Linked DNA regions of Homo sapiens: regions 1, 2 and 4 are each linked to region 3. Evidence: fine-mapped expression QTL. A gene starts in region 3. Each other region holds a variant in brackets. All regions are shown on one strand. Distances are from middle to middle.

Region 1 (5,155 bases), 34 kb after region 3:
ACATTTTACAGCCTTCTGAATGGTTCTGAACGATGTATAAATGCTTTTAGAATTTCTTCAAATATTTTAATTGCATTTTATAGTGTTTTGTTATATCAGACTTTTACAGGATTGACTTTTGAGAATATTTTAATCTGGAATGTGGAAAGATCAAATGGAAGTAATTAGGTTCCATAAAAATTTGCTAAGCTTTCATAACATAGACCTTTTTGGAAATCCCAAGTGATTTTATTGATATGTAGCTGTGGGTGCATTTTAAACTCCATCCACAAGGTGTTTTTCTTCAATTTTGTTTTTAAATTGGGTTATAATTACATACAATAAAATGCACACATCTTAAGTGTACAGTTCAAAGTGCTTTAATGAATGTATACATTTATGTCACCAACAACAGAGCTGAGAAAGTATTACAAGGCATTTCTTTTAATTTAGGCAAATGTCATAGTGACTGACTGGTATGGGGCACATGGAGATGATCCATACACCCTACAATACAGAGGGTGTGGAAAAGAGGGAAAATACATTCATTTCACACCTAATTTCCTACTGAATGATAACTTAACAGCTGGCTACGGATCACGAGGTAAGTGGGACCAATAAAACAATAGCCATTGGACAATACTACTTATAATATTCTGTGCTTGGTGCTGAAAGGGACTCACTCACAAAACCTGAAACTTGTCAAGGACTTACCACTCAAAGGGGGAGATAGGTCATATGCCCATGCAAAGATGAGGGGCTAAAGTGAACTCGAAAGAGTTTAGCACCAGATTAGTGGCCCAGAGAGGAGTGCTATAAGAATTCAATCAAGGAAACGTCATTTAGAGTCAAGGGTGGTCAGAAATGTCCTCACAAAGGAAAAGGTCTTCAAGATTGAACATCATTTTGATAAATGGAAAGAAGGGAGAAAATAGTGGGAAGACTATGAAGAAAACTGTGGCAGCAGAAAAATTAAAGGCATATAGGAGAGACAGAGACCCTGATGATGGTGCAGGGAGACTGTGGGCAGTGGGAGAAAACGTTGAAACATACATGAGGGCCAGGTGATGCACTAAAATGGCCACATTTTCAAGTCACCACTCAAGGTTTCTAAGCACAGGAGTGACTCCATCAAAGCAGTGTTTTAAGATTAATCTGGCTTCCTCTGATCAATGAAGGAGAAACTGGATATCAGGAGAATAACTGGGAGAAGTCGAGGTATGAGGCCACAAGACTTAAAAATGGGTGGAGACAGTGAGATGGGAAGGATAGTAATAAGGACACTGAGGATTTCCTATGCGCTAGCCGCTCTGTGGTTTCCTTTTCAAATGTTATCGTACTTAATTCTAGCAACTCTAAGCGATGAGAAATACTCCAGAGATAAAAAACAAAAAGAGGTCTGAACTGCTGCAGAAGGAAAGGCAAGAGGCACGTGGAGACAGCATTAAGGAACAAGGCACACACCAGGTTTTTGTCAGACATGGAAAAAACCAGCTTCAAGAAGAAATCCCACAAGTCTGGATCTAGGCAAATTCATTGTGAAGAGCAATAGACTATGCCAGGGAAAGTGGTTCAGCCTGTGGTTAGATATTGATGGCTGGAGTTTGGGAGAGAAGTCAGGGTCATAGGCCTAGAGACTGGTATTTAGTGAGTGAGATCTGAGGGAGAAAATAGTAAGCACAGTTCGCCAGTCAAGGACTATCTATCCCAATCTTTATTTTTTGTTTTTGATTTAATGTAACAGTAGTGCCTTTCAAGTGATGTCTTAATTTTCTTTTTTATCCCTAGTTAAATCTAAACTAGGGTTTTGTTAACAAGGATTTTGTTATCCTCTGTATAGTTAGCAGGAAGTGGAGTGAAACACTCCATAAAATACACTTTACAAAACACTTTATAAATCTTTAGAAAAACGTAGTTTTTTTTCTTTCCTGGTAACCTTGAGATGCTGATAATCTCTGCTCAAGCATGATTTCATCAGCACTTCTAAATTTCATGAGTAGGCACAATCTTTCCCTCAACACTCACAGCTTGGACTGCTACCCTCCCTTCCTTTGCCTCGAGGTCCAAAAATTACACAATATGCCACAGCCTGAGTCAACTCAGCACACACTTCCTGAGTTCCCGGAACTTAAAATAATTCAGAAAAAAGAAATGTGTGCTTTGGGAGGGGAGTTCATCTGGAAAGCTTATATGGGAAAGCTGTGGTCTGAACTTTGAAGGGAATGTAAGATTTTGAGAGAGAGGAAGTTCTAAAGGATCTCATGCAGAGGATGGGGGTTTCCCTGACCTAGGAGCTGTAAAATAC[A/G]CATAAACATGGAGAATAAGGGATAAAATAAAAGAGAAGGGACCATCCAGGCTGGGGAGAACATTCTGCAGTCTCCTTTTTTGCTCCTTCCTCCTTCCCTAGCTCCTAGGTTTCAACTATTGCTCTAGATAGAAGAATTACCTGCAAGAAAAAAAGCAGGTCTGCTTGGATAGCTCAGACAGAAGATTAGGAAAGCTTTATTTGCCTATCTGGATATGCTTCTTTCCCTTTCTCCAAACCCTGAACTTAGAGGCCTCTACAAAGCTGAATAGAAACCTGTTGGGCAGCTTCACTGGGGAGATGAGAGGATGTGGGACTACTCACTAGCTTCAAATAGATGTGCAACAAGTAAATTACTGCATTTACAAGACCAAACATATTTTCATGCTGCCTTTTTTATGGTGGTAGGTGGTGGAGTAGGAGGAGATGGGAATAGGATAGGGGAGAGGAAAAGGGGAGAGAGGGAAGTAACTTAAACTCTTTGGTCATTCCAAAGAGTATGTGTGGTCAAGAAATGTTACGTCTTCACTAGTTAGCAAGGCACATTGCTGAGATTTTAGAAGCTCAAAAGCAAAAGTTCTTTCTTCCGCAGGCCGAGTGTTTGTCCATGAATGGGCCCACCTCCGTTGGGGTGTGTTCGATGAGTATAACAATGACAAACCTTTCTACATAAATGGGCAAAATCAAATTAAAGTGACAAGGTTAGTACTTTTTTTCATGTTATAATTCATTATTTATTTGACTCTAAAATTGCTTATAACTTAAGCAATTAAATAATTGCCTAATTTAAGCAATTAATTTAATTGCAGCTAAAACTTAGCTGATAAGAAAGAGATCCTTTCACTTTTCAGTTCTTAAGTTATATGACATTTTTCTTTAAATTGGTATTTATGTGGTTCAAATATCAAAACAATATAAAAAGTCATGCTTGTACCTGTCTTGCTTGCAGCACTATCTTCACTGTTTCCCCTCATGCCCTCTAAGTAACCACTTTGATTAGTTTCTTGTTTATTTTTTCAATATTTCTTCAGGCAAATTCAAATGAATAGAAACATATGTTTTTCCTCGCTCTGTGTTTTATAATTGCATAGTGTTCCATTATGTGACTATACCATAATTTATTCAACCAGTCTCCTCTTGGTGGACACACAGGTTGTTTCCCATCTTTTGTATTATCAGTAACACGCAGTTCATAGCATTACACATGTGTCATTTCTCATACGTGCAGACAGATTAACATATCAAATTCTTCCAACAATTACTGAGTCAAAGGGTGATTTTGGTAGCTATTGACTGATTCTTCTCCTACAATTGCCACTGTTTTACATTCCTATCAACAACATTTGAGATCGCTTGTTTAGGAAAGAATCCTGTTAAATATCATCATTACATGTTCATTATCTTTTTTTCCCCTGATACCAAGTGGAAATGAACTCAAAGGAGCACTGACCCAGGATCTTGCCACTCATGTCCTTCCTTGGGCTTCCCAAAGTCCATCTGGATTTCCTAGTATCTTTTGCTTTGACCCTATTTAGTTGTTAAAGCCCTTGTTAATACAGAACCCCTCCATCAAGATAAAATGCTTTAAAATAAAATAGAGTGCATTTCTAAATCAGTGAACTTTCTTAATGAAGCAGTTTTTTGTTTGTTTTTGTTGTTTGTTTGTTTTTTTGTTTGTTTTTTGAGACGGAGTTTCGCTCCTGTCGCCCAGGCTGGAGTGCAATGGCACGATTTCGGCTCACTGAAACTTCTGCCACCTGGGTTCAAGCAATTCTCCTGCGTCAGCCTCCTCAGTAGCTAGGATTACAGGTGCCCAACACCACGCCTGGCTAATTTTTGTATTTTTAGTAGAGACAGGGTTTCACCATGTTGGCTAGGCTGGTCTTAAACTCTTGACCTCAGGTGATCCACCAGCCTCAGCCTCCCAAAGTAATGGGATTACAGGTGTGAGCCACAGCACCCCGCCAGTAGAGCAGTTTTTAAAGTTTTGTATATATCTAGCAGGCTACAATCCTTGTAATAATTATATAAGCTAGTCAACAAGAAACATAAGTGTTTCTAAAATAGACCTAATTCCCAGTTTCTCTTTCCATTTTTAGGTGTTCATCTGACATCACAGGCATTTTTGTGTGTGAAAAAGGTCCTTGCCCCCAAGAAAACTGTATTATTAGTAAGCTTTTTAAAGAAGGATGCACCTTTATCTACAATAGCACCCAAAATGCAACTGCATCAATAATGTTCATGCAAAGTTTATCTTCTGTAAGTATGCCCTTGGAATGACACACTCTTGCAGGATTCCTTCTCTTCCCATGTTTCAAGTATTTAAATTATAAGATAATTAAGATGCACTATACTTTAGAACTTGGGGGACCCTAGAGTTCATCTAGTTTTTATCTACAGATTTAAAAATTGGAACCCCCAAGATAATTACCCAAATGATACCTTCAGGAAAGTGACTATTTGCTTTCCTGGGAGGTTTAACAAAGGGACTCTGGGGACCACAAAATAAACTGTTCTTATGGTGGTGTTCTTGTATTCTTTCATAAGAAATTACATTGGGTTAATGAGAGTGATATAACAAATGGTTATAATTCTCTCGTTTGAAGTAGCAGACCACTCTGTATTTGAAATGCCTTTCCTCAATCTCTTTCCTTTGTTTTGAATAGTCTAGAACTTAACAGTAAGGTATCACCAGGAGAAGTCAACCAACTCTGCTTTGCAGAAACCCAACCTTGTCAATATTCCATGCTAACTAACTGACAAGAGACTAGCATATAAATCCAGAATATTATTTTTTAAACTATTAATTAAAAAGAGTACTCTGTCATGGGCATCTCATACTTGCATCCTCTGGCCAACTTATTTTCTCTC
Region 2 (5,155 bases), 70 kb before region 3:
CTAAAATTTAGTGGCTTAAAACAACAAACATTTACTATTGAGGGTTAGGAATCTGAAAGGGGCACCACTAGGTGGCTTTGTCTCAGGGTCTCTTGTGAGATGGCCATCATCTGAAGGGACCACAGAGTCAGCTTCCAAGCTCCTGTTGGCAGGAGGCTCCAGTTTTGTACGATGTGGACCTTTCCATAGAGCTGCTCACATAACATGGTAGCTGACTTCCCCAGAGCAAAGAATCAGAGAGAGAGCACCCCAGCATATGTAACCTTTTATAACTTCAGAAGCAACAACCCTCACTTCTGCCACTTCCTATTGGTCACAGAAACTGACCCTGGTAGAGAGTGGAAGAGGAACTACACAAGGCGGAGAAGGAGGTGGGGATCATTGTGGGCCGTCTTAGACACTGTTCATCACAATTTGGAATATGAAGACCACTGTCATGCTTATTGCCAAATTTTTTTCCTGAGTCAGTAACTCATGCAGCCAAGAGTAACAGAAACCCAGCAAATGGTCATTTAAACAAGGAAGAGGAGTGTATATTTTATGCCATAAGAAGTCCCGAGTAGGAGGTCCACAGTTAGTACAGTAGGTCAAGAGCACCTTCAAAGAGTCTTCTGGCTTCTCAGCTCCACCACCTGGGGTGAATGAAGCAGCACTTCCAGAGCATACTAGAAAGAGACTGTGTGGTATCAGTGACTTTCTCTTTACATCTCATTGGCCAGAACCTTGTCAAGCAACTTTTATTTGTAAGGCAAACTGGGGAACTTTTAGATATTCCAACCTCTATAATAGATGACAGCAGGGAAAAACAAGGAAAACAGGTGTTGACTGAGGGCACAGTATGTGTCACGTTTCCTAAGTTCAGCTTTTGAACACCACATTTTTGGGAGGGTGGATCATAATACAATCATTTATTGGAGCTATACTGTAACACAAGAGAAGTACAGGGCCCTGTACATAGCAGGTCCTTATTATTTCTTGAATGAATGTATTATATACTAGTGTTTAATATATCTTATAAGCATTAGCCTTATACAAGCATTTCCTAAAATGACTTTGTATTGTGTTTGTATTAATTGGGAAAAACAGATTTTCCATTACTATGAAATGAAAATAGTAAAAAGCATAATAATTCTACGTGCCTTACTTTTTCTTAATTTCTAGATTTCTGTTCCAGGTTTTGATCTGTGCAGGAAACACTGAGCCCATTTACACTTCAGCTCTGTGATTCCTCTGCTTCCCCCTGTGCCCCCAAACCTTCTCCTCCTATCCTACAGCCCTGCCTCACACAGAAATTCTTTTTATTTCATTGTTCTTCTTGGTTCAGAATTTGCTTTTTTAAAATAAGATAAAAAAGACAAAGTGATAGGGCAAGTTGATTACATATATTCCCCTTAGAAAAAAAAAATTGATGTTATAAGAAACTAACTTTGTAAAAGGGACAACCCAAAAAACAAATTGCATTCTGAAAATACCAGGAAATGCCAACATAGCATTTTTGTACTTCAAAAAAAAGTCTTCAACTTTTATGCCAAAACAGACTTCAAAATTGAAGCTGTTAAAAATACACACTTAATTTAGTAGCTTTTAATTCACAGGGCTTTTTCATGGGTGGAGTTGCTAAGTGGTGAGTTGATTTTTGCCACAGAGGAGAAGACTGCCTCCATAAAATCAGACTTTTACTAAGAATAGACTTGTGGGCCACAGGATAATTAAAAAGTGCTTGGCATAATTGAAGTTCTGGTGAGGAAATGATTAAAGTCATGGTTTGCATGTTGGGTGTATACAAACTACTTTAAAGCTTGGATATTGGAATGTGTAGCCTTCAAAGGATCATATTAAGATGAATAACATTTAAAATACCATTGATAAACTATATTTTTCATTTTTAAATAGAACTAGGATCACTAAAATTACATATTGAAATTATATATTGATTTGACATGAATAGTGAAACTTGCTATATCTATTAGAAATATAGAAAAGCATGTTTTTAAAAGTGTAGCTTATGTTCTTATTCAAAACAATGAAAAAAAAGTTTACTTGGCCATTTTAGCAACGATAAGACAATCTTAGTGCTGCTAAAATTAAAAGGTTCAAACATTTTCAATACTATTCAGTATCTCTAGGTTAGTGAGTTATCAAAATTTAAAGGTATTGATACTTAGTTCTTGTTACTTGTAAGAGAACTAGATACTGTTTCTCCCCCGGGCTAAATTATTTAAAGTTAAAGAATTAGGCCTTCTTTAAAGGTTAAGCAATATGATTAAGCAACAATGAATAGTGCTTAATTTGGACAATGGGATCTGGGATGAGAAGCAGCTGAAGTAATATTTTCACATCATATTCTTTGGTATTCTTTGAATTTATTTTTAATTTAAAAATTACTACTTTTGTAATTAAATTATTAATGATAAACTGAAGTTGAAAACTTTATAAGATCAAAATCCCTAAAGAAACAAAAATATAAAGCATGAAAAATAATTGCCTTTATTGAAACTTGAAAAGTAGCCTTATATGTGATATGAATAAATAAGTTTCAAAACAGTAAGATCCAATCCTAAGATTTTATTAAGCCCAAATTGGAAAACTTTTAGATTACATATTATTTTTTGCTGTAGATTTTTTAGAAAAAAATCTATCCTAATAAATCAGGAAACCACAAATCCCTCTTCATTAAATACCAATGACTCTTGAGTATTTGGAAGGAAATACTGCCTTC[T/C]TTAGCTCTTTCACAATAATTCTGAAGTAACATTAACGTGCTTTTTTAACAGTCAAGTTCCTGGTATAAATGTGCATCCCTTCTTACGATTTACAGGGGATGTTTTAATTTGTCAATGAAAGAAATTTATAATAAATAACATAAATTTCAAATTTGGCTAATACTTTCTACAATCCCTTAAATGATTTAGGGTTTGTTTGGAATTTTTTTGTATGATTAACTTAGAGCCTCATCTAATTTCAAAGCTATTATGATTATGAGAAACTAGTGTAGGCACTTGTTTAGAACTGCAAAGGTTGACAGTGTTCTGAGTCTGTCCTAAATATGATTTTAAAATATGATAAATATTTACATCATTATGTAAATAATATAGACACTGGAAATAAAATTAACACATGAGCAACAATGCAGTAACAAAGAACACAGAAAAATTCTGTGACTTGTTAAATCAAACATCACATTCGTTCCCCAATAAACACACACAAATACACTGGAAAATAATTAGACAAACCCATAAGTTAAAATCAGACAAAAATATAAGCAAAATAATAATTTTCTTTTTCCTAATTAAAAAAAATAAAAGGAATCTGAAACAAAATTGGTCTCCCTCGACCCCACTTTTTCCTCGTGTATTTTAGTTGATGGCACTAACTGGTACCTGATCAGCAATCTGTGCATCCCTCCCAACAAAAGCCAATGAGTCACCAAGTCATGTGGATTTCATGTTATCAAATTTCATGACTTTATCCCCTTTTCGCTATTCCTACTATTGCTACCCTCCTTGTTGTTTACTAGACTATGACACAGTCACCTATTGGGTCTCCCAGCCTCCAGTGTTCCTTCTCCCTCTTCACCCATTCTCATCCTTCCCAACAACATAGTGATATTTCATGGTCACCAGAGTTATCTACATAAATGAAAATTTGACCACATATGTCCCTGTTTGGACAGAATTCTAGAAAAGATGGTGTCAGGCACATTTTCTCTTTCAAAAATTCTACTTTGACAAGGAGAGAATAGACAGACAGTAAAATATCTGGATCTTAAGTCAGATGATTTAATGACATTGATCCAGTGACGATAATGTTTAAAGGGACCTCTGGGATAAAAAAGGATCCAGGGAAACACAGCATAAACGCTTAACGCCACCCACAAAAGAAAAAGAATTTGAAGGCCTCAAACATTTCTTCCGTGGGTGTCAGAAGACAGGAAGTAACATCTACAGAGCTTTGAAGGAAACAGTTGTAACTCCAAGATTTTCTTCCCACTAAAGTTTCTGCTCAGGTTTCCACATGTAAATGAAGGCAAGAAGGAAATCATGAATATGAGAACCCTAAATATATTCCAAATACAGATAATTACTGAATAAAATGTTTAAAGCATATCCTAGAAAAATTAAAGGTAAAACAAAAATAACAATTGAGTGTTGATACCAAAAAGAACATGACATCAGCTAACAATATAATTATAAATTTAAATGATTATTTTATACATGGTTACAACCTTAATTTTTATTATTATCATTTTTAATAATAATTTAGCACATTCGTAGGTTATATAGTGATATTTCCATACATATAATATATAGTGATCAGATCAGGGTAATTAGCATATTGATCATCTCAAACATTGATCATTTGTTTGTGTTGGCAACATTCAATATCCTTTTAACTATTTGAAAGTATATATTAATATTTATTTTTATAAAAATAATAGAGAATTTTTAATCTCAGACTGGGAAGAAAAGATGGGAAAGTATCAAGTTCTTTATCTCCAGGAGAAAGTACTGAAACAAAATAACAAAGAACAATAGAAACAATGAAATTGGCACAATTTATCATACAAATATGAAGAAAAAAATATTTAGAGGTTGCAAAAGTATATAGAATAAAAATACTAGATATATAAGGAAAAATGGGCAGAAACACACTCTCTGTAGGAGAATTTACAGTATTAATCTATAATAGGTAAAATAGACACAATAAAGAAGATATAGAAAATTAATAATGGAGTAGAGAAAGATACTTAATAAATTCCCAACAGCAGAAATTATGAAGACCATATTTTTACTACACAATAGTTTACCCTTATCCTCAAGGGATACATTTTAAGACCCCCAGTGGATGCCCAAAACTGAGGACAGTACCAAACTTTATATATACTGTATTAGTCTGTTCTCACATTGCTATAAAGAAATACCTGAGACTGGGTGAAGAAAAGAGGTTTAATTGGCTTATGGTTCCACAGGTTGTGCAAGAAGCATGGCAGCATCTGCCTTGTAGGAGGCCTAGGGGAGCTTTTACTCCTGGCAGAAGGCAAAGCAGGAGCAGGTGTCTTACATGTTACAGGAGCAGGACCAAGGTTGGGGGAGGTGCCACACACTTTTCAATGATGAGATCTCACGAGAACTCGCCTGCTATCACAGAACTAGCACCT
Region 3 (5,155 bases):
AAAGCTATAAATAAGTAAATTAAATCTTAGAAGGGTTAAATAGCTTGTCCAAGATTACAAGTAAGGAATTGGTGGAACTCAGTTTTGAATTAAAAGCCATGAGATGGTGAAACCGCATCTCTACTAAAAATACAAAAATTAGCTAGGCGTGGTGGTGGGCACCTGTAGTCCCAGCTACTCGAGAGGCTGAGGCAGGAGAATCACTTGAACCCGGGAGGCGGACGTTGCAGTGAGCCGAGATCGCGCCACTGCACTCCACTGCGGCAGAGCGAGACTCCATCTCAAAAAAAAAAAAAAGCCATGAGATACTAAAACATAAATATAAAAATCTACAAAGCAAAAAGTAACACACAAACTTGCCTTTATTCAGTCAGGTTTTAATACTCATAAGTTCAATTTAGATTCAAAAGATGAAAACTGTTCTGGACAAGGAAATGAGTGATGAATGAGCTAGCTAAAAGCACAGACTACAATTCTAAAGAGAGAGAGCAGACCGCGACCAGATCACTAAATTCCATTGTTCTAAAGTTTGTCACAAGGAACTTTTGGGATAGAAAAACTACACTATAAATACACATCCATTGTGAAATAAGAAGATGAAAAAGAGAAGCAAAAAGCAAATCATAAACATGATCATGACATTCTTACTATAAGCAGAATATCAAACTAATTTCAAAAGCAGACAGGTTTTCTGCAGTTTGTTTCTTTTTCCTTTTTTTTTTTTTTTTTTGAGACAGAGTCTCGCGCTGTCGCCCAGGCTGGAGTGCAGTGGCGCGATCTCGGCTCACGGCAAGCTCCGCCTCCTGGGTTCACGCCATTCTCCTGCCTCAGCCTCCCGAGTAGCTGGGACTACGGGCGCCCGCCACCACGCCCGGATAACTTTTTGTATTTGTTTTAGTAGAGACGGGGTTTCACCGTGTTGGCCAGGATGGTCTCGATCTCCTAACCTCGTGATCCGCCCGCCTCGGCCTCCCAAAGTGCTGGGATTACAGGCGTGAGCCACCGCGCCCGGCCCGGTTTGTTTCTTTAACCTTAACTCAGTTGCACTTAAAACTCCAAGAACCTCATTCATTCAAAAACACTTGAAACCGTACTATGCGTTGCGTGATGAGGAAACTGTCTTCGAAATAGATTTTATCCCCAACAGCAGCCCCAGTATGGTTATTCTCAGTAAACAACAAGCACCACCACTCACTAACCACCTACATTCGGTGCCACCTTAATGGCCCTGCGTTTACTTAATCTCGTATTACAACCACCCCAAAGTGATGATTACTGTTACAGTTATCAGTAAGGAATCCAGGAAGGTTCAGTGACCTAGACAAGGCCACACAGCGGGTTCAGTGGCAGAGCTGGGACTGAACACAAGTCGGCCTTTAGCACTCTCCACGACCCTAGGTCAATCCCGCACTACAGGGGTCGCCTATAGGGGCTGGAACCTAGAGGAATCCTGGAGAAGGAATTATTTCCTGAGGATTCCTGTAATATACCTCACTTACGAAGCCCCCAGGGCTTCCTACAATCTGATATATCACATGATGGGCGATTAAAAACCAGCCCAATGATTAAGAGGTCACTATTTCTGAAAGAAATGCAACCATATCCAGGAACGGCCCGGTCAGGACTTCGTTCTGCACAAGCCCACCTCACGCTAACATTTGCCCTGATGTCCCGGGGACCACACCCTTCCTAAGAGTGAGTCTCGCCGCCCTTTTCCCAGGCCAGGTAGTCAGCCTGAGGGAGGTGGAGGGTTTGCGCGGAGGGGGCTGGGTGGGCGCGAGGGCCTTTTACTTCCGGGACCCACCACTGCCCTCACCTCCAGACCGCTAAGGGCTCCCGCGGTAAACGCCCAGCAGCAGCTAGGCTCCCCACAAAGTCGCCCCCAACCCAAAAGGCGTACTTACGCCCCCGCCGCTGCGTCCGCACGTCGTCGTGACGACAGCCCGCCGTCGCCGCGATATAAAAAAAGGGTCAGAGGCGCCACGGCTGCTGCAATGGAAACCGTGGCAATCCTTCTTGTGCTCTGAGTCGGCTAGGAGGGAGCGGGACGCAGGGGGCACTACAGTGGGTAGACTAGGAAGGAAGGCAAGGGACGCGAGGTGGGAACCAGGCGAATTCCTAGACCTGCTTGCCGCAGAAGAGTGCCCGCTCAAGTGGAACAAAAGCGCAGCTAGTAACCGGCTAGTGGCTTCTCTGGCAACGGCGGCCCCACCCCTCCCGTCAGGCCCGCAGCAGGCTGCCGATTGGTCCGGGTTAGGGACGGCGGGCAGCGCCTATAGCTATTGGAGAGGGTGAGGAACGGGGCAGGGAGGGCAGCTTCGTGTCTATCCTTGTTTCTCGGGTAAACATTTTTTTTTAAGCGTTTGTTTATGGACAAGGACAGCATTTGTGTACGTTACCGAAAATCATAACCGAGCCCAACTAGAAAAAAAGGAAATAAAGCCAATTCCGAGTTTTCTGGCGCTTGGCCTGGTTGTGCCCTGCTTTTGCTTTTTAAAGAGAAGATTTGAAAACGTGAAGGCAACTGCGACCGGAAGAAACCTCCTTTTAAATGTATAGTAGTATTTTTAGCTGAGATGCCTCCCTGGGCCTCAGGTTTTTTCCTGTTAAATGAGGAAGCCTGAGGATGTTCTGCAAGGTGCCTTCAGGGTCTCAAAGTCTTTCGTATCTGTGCCACAGCCAGCTGGTCTGGTTTATAAAGTCCTGAAGAAGCAAAGCAAGATTTTAATTGGAAAAATATCTTCATTCAATGCCTCTACTTAATATTCATGTTAAGAATCGTACACCAACCTATGAAGTTCACAAGTAGAGTAACTGTCAACTAAGCCATAACCGTGGCATGCTGCTACCTAAATAATTGGTTTCACTAAAGCACTCCAGCAATGTTTTTCCACCAGTACTGTAATTGTCCCTTTCATAATTTAAAGCGGGAGACAGAATTAGTAAATTTTTTAGTAAAGGGCCAGTGATATGGTTAGGCTCTGAGTCCCCGACCACATCCCATCTTGAATTGTAATCCCCATAATCCCCACGTGTCAAGAGAGAAACCAGGTGAAGGTAATTGAATCATGGGGGCAGTTCCATAATCCCCACGTGTCAAGAGAGAGACCAGATGAAGGTAATGGAATCATGGGGGCCGTTTACCCCCATGCTAGTGAGTTCTCAAGCTATCTGATGGTTTTGTAAGGGGCTCTTTCCCCTCCACTGGGCACTTCTCCTTAACGAAGAAGGTGTCCTGCTTCCCCTTCACCTTCCGTCATGATTGTAAGTTTCCTGAGGCCTCCCCAGCGACGCTGAACTGTGAGTCAATTAAACCCCTTTCCTTTATAAATTACCCAGTCTCAGGCAATTCTTTATAGCAGTATGAAAATGTGCTCATACAGCCAGATAATATTTTATTAATAGGTTTTGCAGGTCATATGGTCTCTGTGATACTATTTAACTCTGCCATTGTCTTACCAAGAAAAGCCATAGATGATACATAAACATAAACATATGAGCTCACTAAAGTACGTTTGTGTGCAGGATGCAACACTACAGTGTTGGGTAGAAATTGTGATTTCTATCTTCATGGCAACAAATGGGGACTAGAATGTAAAAATAGCAGGCAATGAAATAGAATAAAGATACTTGAATACAAATAATACTTCAAAATTAAAAAGCAACATTTTAGATAACCTGTTTGCAGAGGACAAACAGAAGGTTAAATGAAAGTGTGATGGAGAATCACCACCTTTACATCTTTGCACTCTTTAATAGTGCCACTAATCACTGGAATTCCCCTAGGACTATGGTATTGCCTTTGGTTTAATCTTTTAGTAGATAAGGGCAGTTCCAAAGGCTTCCACTTTGTCTTCCTATTATAATAGCCATGAGTCAAAAAGCCAATGTCAAGATGCTGTAAATCTCCTTTAAGGTTATGACATTCAGGTCTCTTCATTAGTTCTGGTAAATTTTTTGCTGTACAAATTAAGTAGAATCTTAGCAGACTATCCATTTCAATTATAGGGGCAGTGATTAATTATCAACTCCTAAAGATCCCCCTTAGTCAAACAATATGATACACCCTGCTGGTATCATGGTATCAACAGATATCTCATCTCTGATGGCTCAGTGGTATCACTTGGCCTCTATCACTTTGGGATCTTACTATTTCCATTAGGGAATTAGGGATTTCATGCAATGGCAGCATCTTTATCCCCAGGCTTATAGAATAGCAGCTACAGAGCTTTTAAAGGATTCTGGCATTCCCTATATTTTCTCAATGCTTTAGTAAAAAGAAGGTCCTTTGGCCCTCTCAGAACACCTTTGAAAGGAGATGACTGGGTAACATATGATAAATCCATTCATACAGTACTATTCCCTAAGTCTTCTTTAAAAATTGATACATACTAGATGTACATATTTTCAGGGTACATGTGATAATTGGATACATTTATATGAATGTGTAATGTGTAAAGATCAAATCAAGATAGTCAGGATATCCATCACCTTAAATATTTATCTTTATGCTATGAACATTCAAATTGTTCTCTTCTAGTTATTTTGAAATATACAATAGATTATAGTTAACTATAGTCACCCTACTTATCTGTCAAACACTGGGTCTTATTTCTTCTATCTAACTGTATGTCTGCACTCATTAATCAACCTCTCTTCGTTACCCCTTTCCCTAAGTCTTTTAATTCAATCCTCTAAAATCAAGAGATTTCTAACATCTCAACTTTATTTAGTTTCAATCAACCAACTGAGCAAACCTTGACAGCCACTCCTAGATGTTCAAAGCAAGAACAGTGAATTATGGTCTCTGGTAAATGTATTCATATTAATATCTTGGTCTCATCAAAAATATTCCTTCATCCCTGGTCTGCCACACTTGGAATTCATTATCATTTTCTATAGTCTTCTGCCAATATAAATAAGCAAAATCTTGCACTTTTTTGGTATGAAACCCTTCTCCCAGGTCAGATCTTTTATTATACCCTGGAACATGTTGGGATCTAACTTTAGATCTAGACCAGTGGTTCTTGACATTTTTTTTGCCACAGCCAAAGAGGAAGGGCAAGTGTCCTACTGGCATCTAGTGAGTAGAGGCTAGAGATGCTGTTAAACATCTGCAATGCACGGGACATCCTCCACAACAAAATGTCAACAG
Region 4 (5,155 bases), 140 kb before region 3:
TGTAAAATATTCAGCAAAGGCAAATATAGAGAGACAGGAAGCAGATTAGTGGTTACCTAGGCAGAGATCAATTTCAAACAGACACGAGGAAATTTTTGTGGTAATGAATATGTTTTGAATTTAAATCTGGATTGCAGTGATGGTTGTACATCTCTATAAATTTACAAAAAAAATCATTGAATTATACACTTACAGTGGGTGAATTTTAGGATATATAAATTATATATCCCTAACATTATTTTTTTAAATAGTAAAAGAAAAATCATTTAATATTTCTTAGCTATGACAAAGCTGAAATTTTCTGGACTTCTTCCAATTTATTGAACACTAAATAAAGTGGCAGGTACTGTTTAGATCTTTATGAAAATTGTTTTTATTTACTTATCACAATAACTCTCTGAGGTAGGAATTATTTTCCCATTTTACAGATGAAGGAACAGCCAAAAATCCAGCCAGCAAAAATCCAGGGTCACTCAGCTAGTAATCTGAAGAGCAGGAATTTAAACCCCTACTTGTCTGGTGGCAAGATCCAGGCTCTAATGACTATGACTTGGTGTCTTGTTTGTCAACTTCTAAGCAAATTAATTCTGACTTTGTCTCATATATGAAATAGACTAACTCCCTCCAGTTCCTTCCTTTAAGATTTTTGTGGGCATGTGAGTTTATTTTCCTCCTTCCTGCCTGCGTCATTTTCTTTTCCATCTATTTCTGTGCTTCAGTTTTGTAAAATTTTCAGCTGTGTTTCAGATGTGTTCTAATCTTCACTTGCATCAGGTAACTGCAGCAGGCTTGACATCTTGCATTAACAAAGCAGAAGACTCCAGGCTATGAGGGAAACTTCTTTCTTATTGTTTGGAAAAGCCAGTTTTCCATAGTTTAAATTTTGCATTAACAGTAGGCCTATTGAGTCCACTTAATATGGCAACTTTTTGGATAAATGCAAATTGATTGTACAGTACATATTACAGAAACACATCTGTCTCTAAATGGGTTCACATGAGACATAGTTTATTCCACAGGTTAACTTTCTAAATTAAATCCTTCTCTAAAGTCAGAACACTAAGAAGAACCAGACTTCATAAATGAATAATGAATTTTTTCATTAGTAACAAAAACAGCTTAAAGTTGAAAGGTCTACTGGGTAGGTCTGAAATGTGGGAACAATTCGTAATTGAGGACCTAATGTTCCACTGAAAAAAATTCTCTTTGAGGTATCATCAGACAAACTTAAAAATTCTCCACCACTGGCCATTTCCAAGTAAAGATGCCAGTTTGATCACACATTTTAAACATGTGTCTGGAGAATTTTATGTAGCTTCTTTTACAAACTTAAAGACAAATATATTCTCTGTTACCAGAGAAAATTGGTCTTTTGGGAGGATTTAGAAATGGAAAAAATGTAGAAAATAATCCACAAATAAATACTGGGGCAGTTTCTATTTGTACCTATGCCTGCACTAGTTACATGTTAGGCTCTTTTGAAGACTATACACACGTTATGCATAAACACATTCTAGAAGAAAGGTAAGAAGAAAAAAATCATGACCAGAAGTTGATATAATAAGAAATCTAGGCCTTTTCACTGCGTATTTGTTGCTAAAGATTATCTTCAGGTAAGACCACCATGTAGCGAACCAGGCCCCATAAAAGACCATATTCATGGCCACTTAATGGGAAAATAAACCACAATGGTGTTGTTGTAGCACAACTGTAACCAGAGATGTATATCTCTATTCAGATAGAAGAGGTGCTTATTAATTTTTGCTTTAATTATTAGATAATTCCTTGGTTTCCATTCTGTTTTTACTTAAAACCCATTATAATCATCTTTTGAACATATTTGTCTAAGGGTTTACATTAATTTTCCTCTTTCAGAGAACAGGGAATCCAAAAACAACAATCTTAGCTGTTGTTGGAAAATAAAAGTGACCGCTGGGACTGTGAACCAGAGGTACAGGAGCTGGTCCATGACCCAGACCACAGGTTGGCAGTGGCAAAGGGCCTTCATCCTGCAGGTCCACGCCTATGGCCCTAGCACCACCGCTTCTGGAGAAGGATGGGCAGGAATGAGGCAGTGATTGGTCCTTCTGGCACTGTCCTAGGTAGATACTGTTTTCAATGTTGTCTGGACCATCTGGAGGCAGGGGTGGTGGGCACAGACTACAGGGGAAGAATTCTGTTAGAGCCTGCATTGTGAGATAATTCTCCCCTACTCTAGACTAGTGAAAGAGGAATGGAGGATGTGGGCTCCAGGACAGTTTGGTTCTTTCTTGATCAGCACCCCAGAGTCTGAGT[G/A]TCTAGAGGGGCTAAGTGTGCGTCTGTCCTAGTGTGAAAGCCTAAAGTAACGCTATATACATCTCAGTGTGTTTTTCCCACCATGACCTGCAAAGTGGTTACAACTGTTAATATCCACATTTACAGATGATGCTTCTGAGTCACAGAGGGGGCAAGATGCCTGCCACGAGATGACGAAGCTAGGATAGAACCCTGTCTCTTCACCCCCACTCTAATGACCCCTATATTAAACCACACTGACTCTCTGAAATCAGTATTGCAAGAGGTGTTTACTATTCTTTCAAATGTAGTCATGGGAAGGAGACGGGACTCTAGTTAAGATAAGAAGAATCCTGTTGTAGCAGCAGCATACAAAACCCAACTCTGTACAGATGGTTTTAGCATTTCCCCTCGTATTCTTTCCCTGTTCTTTTTCTTGGTTGGTATCTCACTGTGTGTGTCCTTGGAGACCAAGGTAGAACTGCCAATTGCCACTCTGGCTGAGGGGCTCCATGGTTTCCATGCAGAGGTAGGGGTTATAACTCCACATTTGAAATTTAGTTTGGATTGAATTTTGGGCCACAGTTCTTATATCCAAAAAGAAAAAAAAAATTCTTTGCGAGGATAATTTTTTAAAGTTTTCAAGTTTAGGAAAAAAGTCACAAGTCCAAATTATAAATTATTATTATTATTATTATTATTATTATTTACTTTAGCCATATGTTACTACATGGAGAAATTATGATTATTTTTGGTTATGTTCATAAACATCTTTTTTCAAAGATTATTATTCTAATAACACAGGTCATGACTGTGGGAGCATTGTCAGGAACTGCTCTTCAGGAAACTGCTGAAAATGTGATATGGACATAGAGGAGCTCACATTTCAAGAGTATCTGTATTGTACTATTTTCCCAAAATATCTTCAAGGGACTAACCTGTCCTCTATCCATCTCCTTAGTGGGATTTTGCATACAAGAGGCTCTTGGGAGTGCACATAGTGATAACTACCTAAACAGAGCTTTCAATATTAATCATTGTTTTATAACATTTTGAAGCTTGAAAAAATGTTATGTATATATGCTATATATTAAAATGCTATATATAGATATATAGCATTTTTCAATGCTGTTTATTAAAAGCCATATATACACATGCATTTAAATGGCTTTTATTATCCTTGTTATATGCAGGAGAACTGAGGCTCAGCAAAGCAACTTGTCAGACTCTCACATAGCTACTAAGGGACAGAAGCAACTCACAAGTACAAGCTATATTCATGACATCCAAATGTGTCTCACAAATAATTCTTTATAAAATACAGTCTCTCATTAGTTAGATCTCTTTATTTGGATATGCAGTGCCATGTGGTACTAAAGCTGTTGAATTTGCCCTGTGCTGGATTTGGTACCGCCTGTAAGATGGAATGCAGATATTTCCCATCATGTCACAGTACCTGGGATGGGTTCTGTGACTTAATTTGGTGAAGTTATCATTCACCAAATTAAGATAGGTAAAAATATTGAATTGTACTTAAATATCTATTTCTCTAGTCTTCAACATGCCCTAATTTGCTGCTGAGAATGAGAAATGAATCAGAAATGAAGAATCAAAATTGTCTACCACCTGCTTCTCTCAAGTCTGCTGTGAGACTAGCACAAAGACAAGCTACTTTCACTCTAGCCTATTTTCTGTGAGTTAGAGGCAATTTACAGGTTCCCCTTCCTGCATCATCTTAGAACTTTACTCAAAATTTTTCACATAGCATATTTCGTATTCTATTATGATTTTTGTTTATACTATATTTCCCCACTATATTACGGCCCCTTCTGTAACAGAGACTCTTTATCATCTGAACAGCACAGCCCATGGTGCAGAGTGTAGACTTCACTGAGCATTCATTGAATAAGCATGACATAGGGAGATGCACCATATGAATAAATTCAGGGACTATGGAACATTTGCACTAAAGCATCCCCATGTGGCAGGAATCTGTCAGATTAGAGAGGTGTGCTGGTTAGATCCACTGCCTAATCTGTTTTTGGCTAGGAGAAAATGTTCTAGATAGATAAATGATACTTCTCTCCATTTAAGTTTTCCTTTTCATGTCAAAGAGAGTCTTTGTTTATAGATACGATGCTACCTTTCCATTAACTGGAGGGCAGGCACACATCTGTTTTTCCAAGAGTGGGAATGAACTGAATCAAACTATTTACATTTTCTTACCTTTCTCCTACCTGATAGCATTATTTACAGGCTGATAATCCCAGAGTAAAAGTGTAATTTGAGGTTAGCAAGCAAAAAAAAATGCTTATGATGAAAAGACTCCATCCAAATCAGGCTCAAGGACAGTGAAATACCTGTTACAGATGAGCATTAAAAGAAAAGGCTGTCACCATGATGACCAAAGATGGGCTAGTCTTTGGTCTCCAACGTGGATCTCCAATATTGTGAGTAAGAGGCTGGGATACAAGTATCTTATTGAAAAATCTAACATTCAGAGCCATTAAGAAGTGGGATGGGTCTGCTTTTCTGACTCCAGAGCCCATCACTAGCACTTCTACAGCACTTGCTGTTTTTAAAACACACACGTTTTCTTAATTAATCCCCATGGAGGAAGCGTAACACAGCTGTTAATGGTTCATGGTACAGGCTTTAAGTCAGATTGCCCTGGGTTAGAATCCCGGCTTCCACGTAACTTCTAGGTTACCTTGGGCAAAATTTAACTTCTCTGAACACCAGTTTCCATCCATAATGAAGATATAATAATAGTGCCTACCTCGAGGGTTGTTAAGATTAAATGAGATAATTACATAAAATATCTGGCCAAGGTGCCTAGCATCTAACAAGTGCCCAATAAAAGTCAGCTGTAAATGATGTA

Direction of the effects. Positions count from the first base shown, and alleles are read on the strand shown. Sizes are in standard deviations (SD) of each study's normalised expression. Not every link is listed here.
With allele G in place of A in region 1, the expression in sigmoid colon of the gene that starts at base 2,195 in region 3 is lower (small effect, 0.37 SD a copy in GTEx).

The links. PIP is the estimated chance that this variant, and not a neighbour inherited with it, causes the effect.
Region 1: its variant is the best candidate, but not a certain one, in a credible set for the expression of ODF2L in sigmoid colon (GTEx, PIP 0.63).
Region 2: its variant is the best candidate, but not a certain one, in a credible set for the expression of ODF2L in whole blood (TOPMed, PIP 0.75).
Region 4: its variant is the best candidate, but not a certain one, in a credible set for the expression of ODF2L in whole blood (TOPMed, PIP 0.62).

The regions. Positions count from the first base shown.
Region 1 is chr1:86,427,986-86,433,140 of GRCh38, forward strand. CLCA2 (chloride channel accessory 2) reads left to right here. Exons shown (of 14, transcript NM_006536.7): 3 at 433-583; 4 at 2,877-2,985; 5 at 4,384-4,543. Among named protein-coding and RNA genes, the nearest start is that of CLCA2, 6.4 kb to the left of the region's middle. The variant A/G (reference allele first, on the strand shown) is at 2,285.
Region 2 is chr1:86,323,978-86,329,132 of GRCh38, forward strand. All of the region lies in intron 2 of LOC105378825 (a long non-coding RNA gene), which reads right to left. Among named protein-coding and RNA genes, the nearest start is that of LINC02795, 7.0 kb to the left of the region's middle. The variant T/C (reference allele first, on the strand shown) is at 2,720.
Region 3 is chr1:86,394,129-86,399,283 of GRCh38, forward strand. It overlaps ODF2L (outer dense fiber of sperm tails 2 like), which reads right to left and starts at 2,195. Exons shown (of 17, transcript NM_001366781.1): 1 at 1,905-2,195. RefSeq lists an enhancer at 2,120-2,169.
Region 4 is chr1:86,252,979-86,258,133 of GRCh38, forward strand. No RefSeq gene overlaps it. Among named protein-coding and RNA genes, the nearest start is that of LINC02795, 64 kb to the right of the region's middle. The variant G/A (reference allele first, on the strand shown) is at 2,296.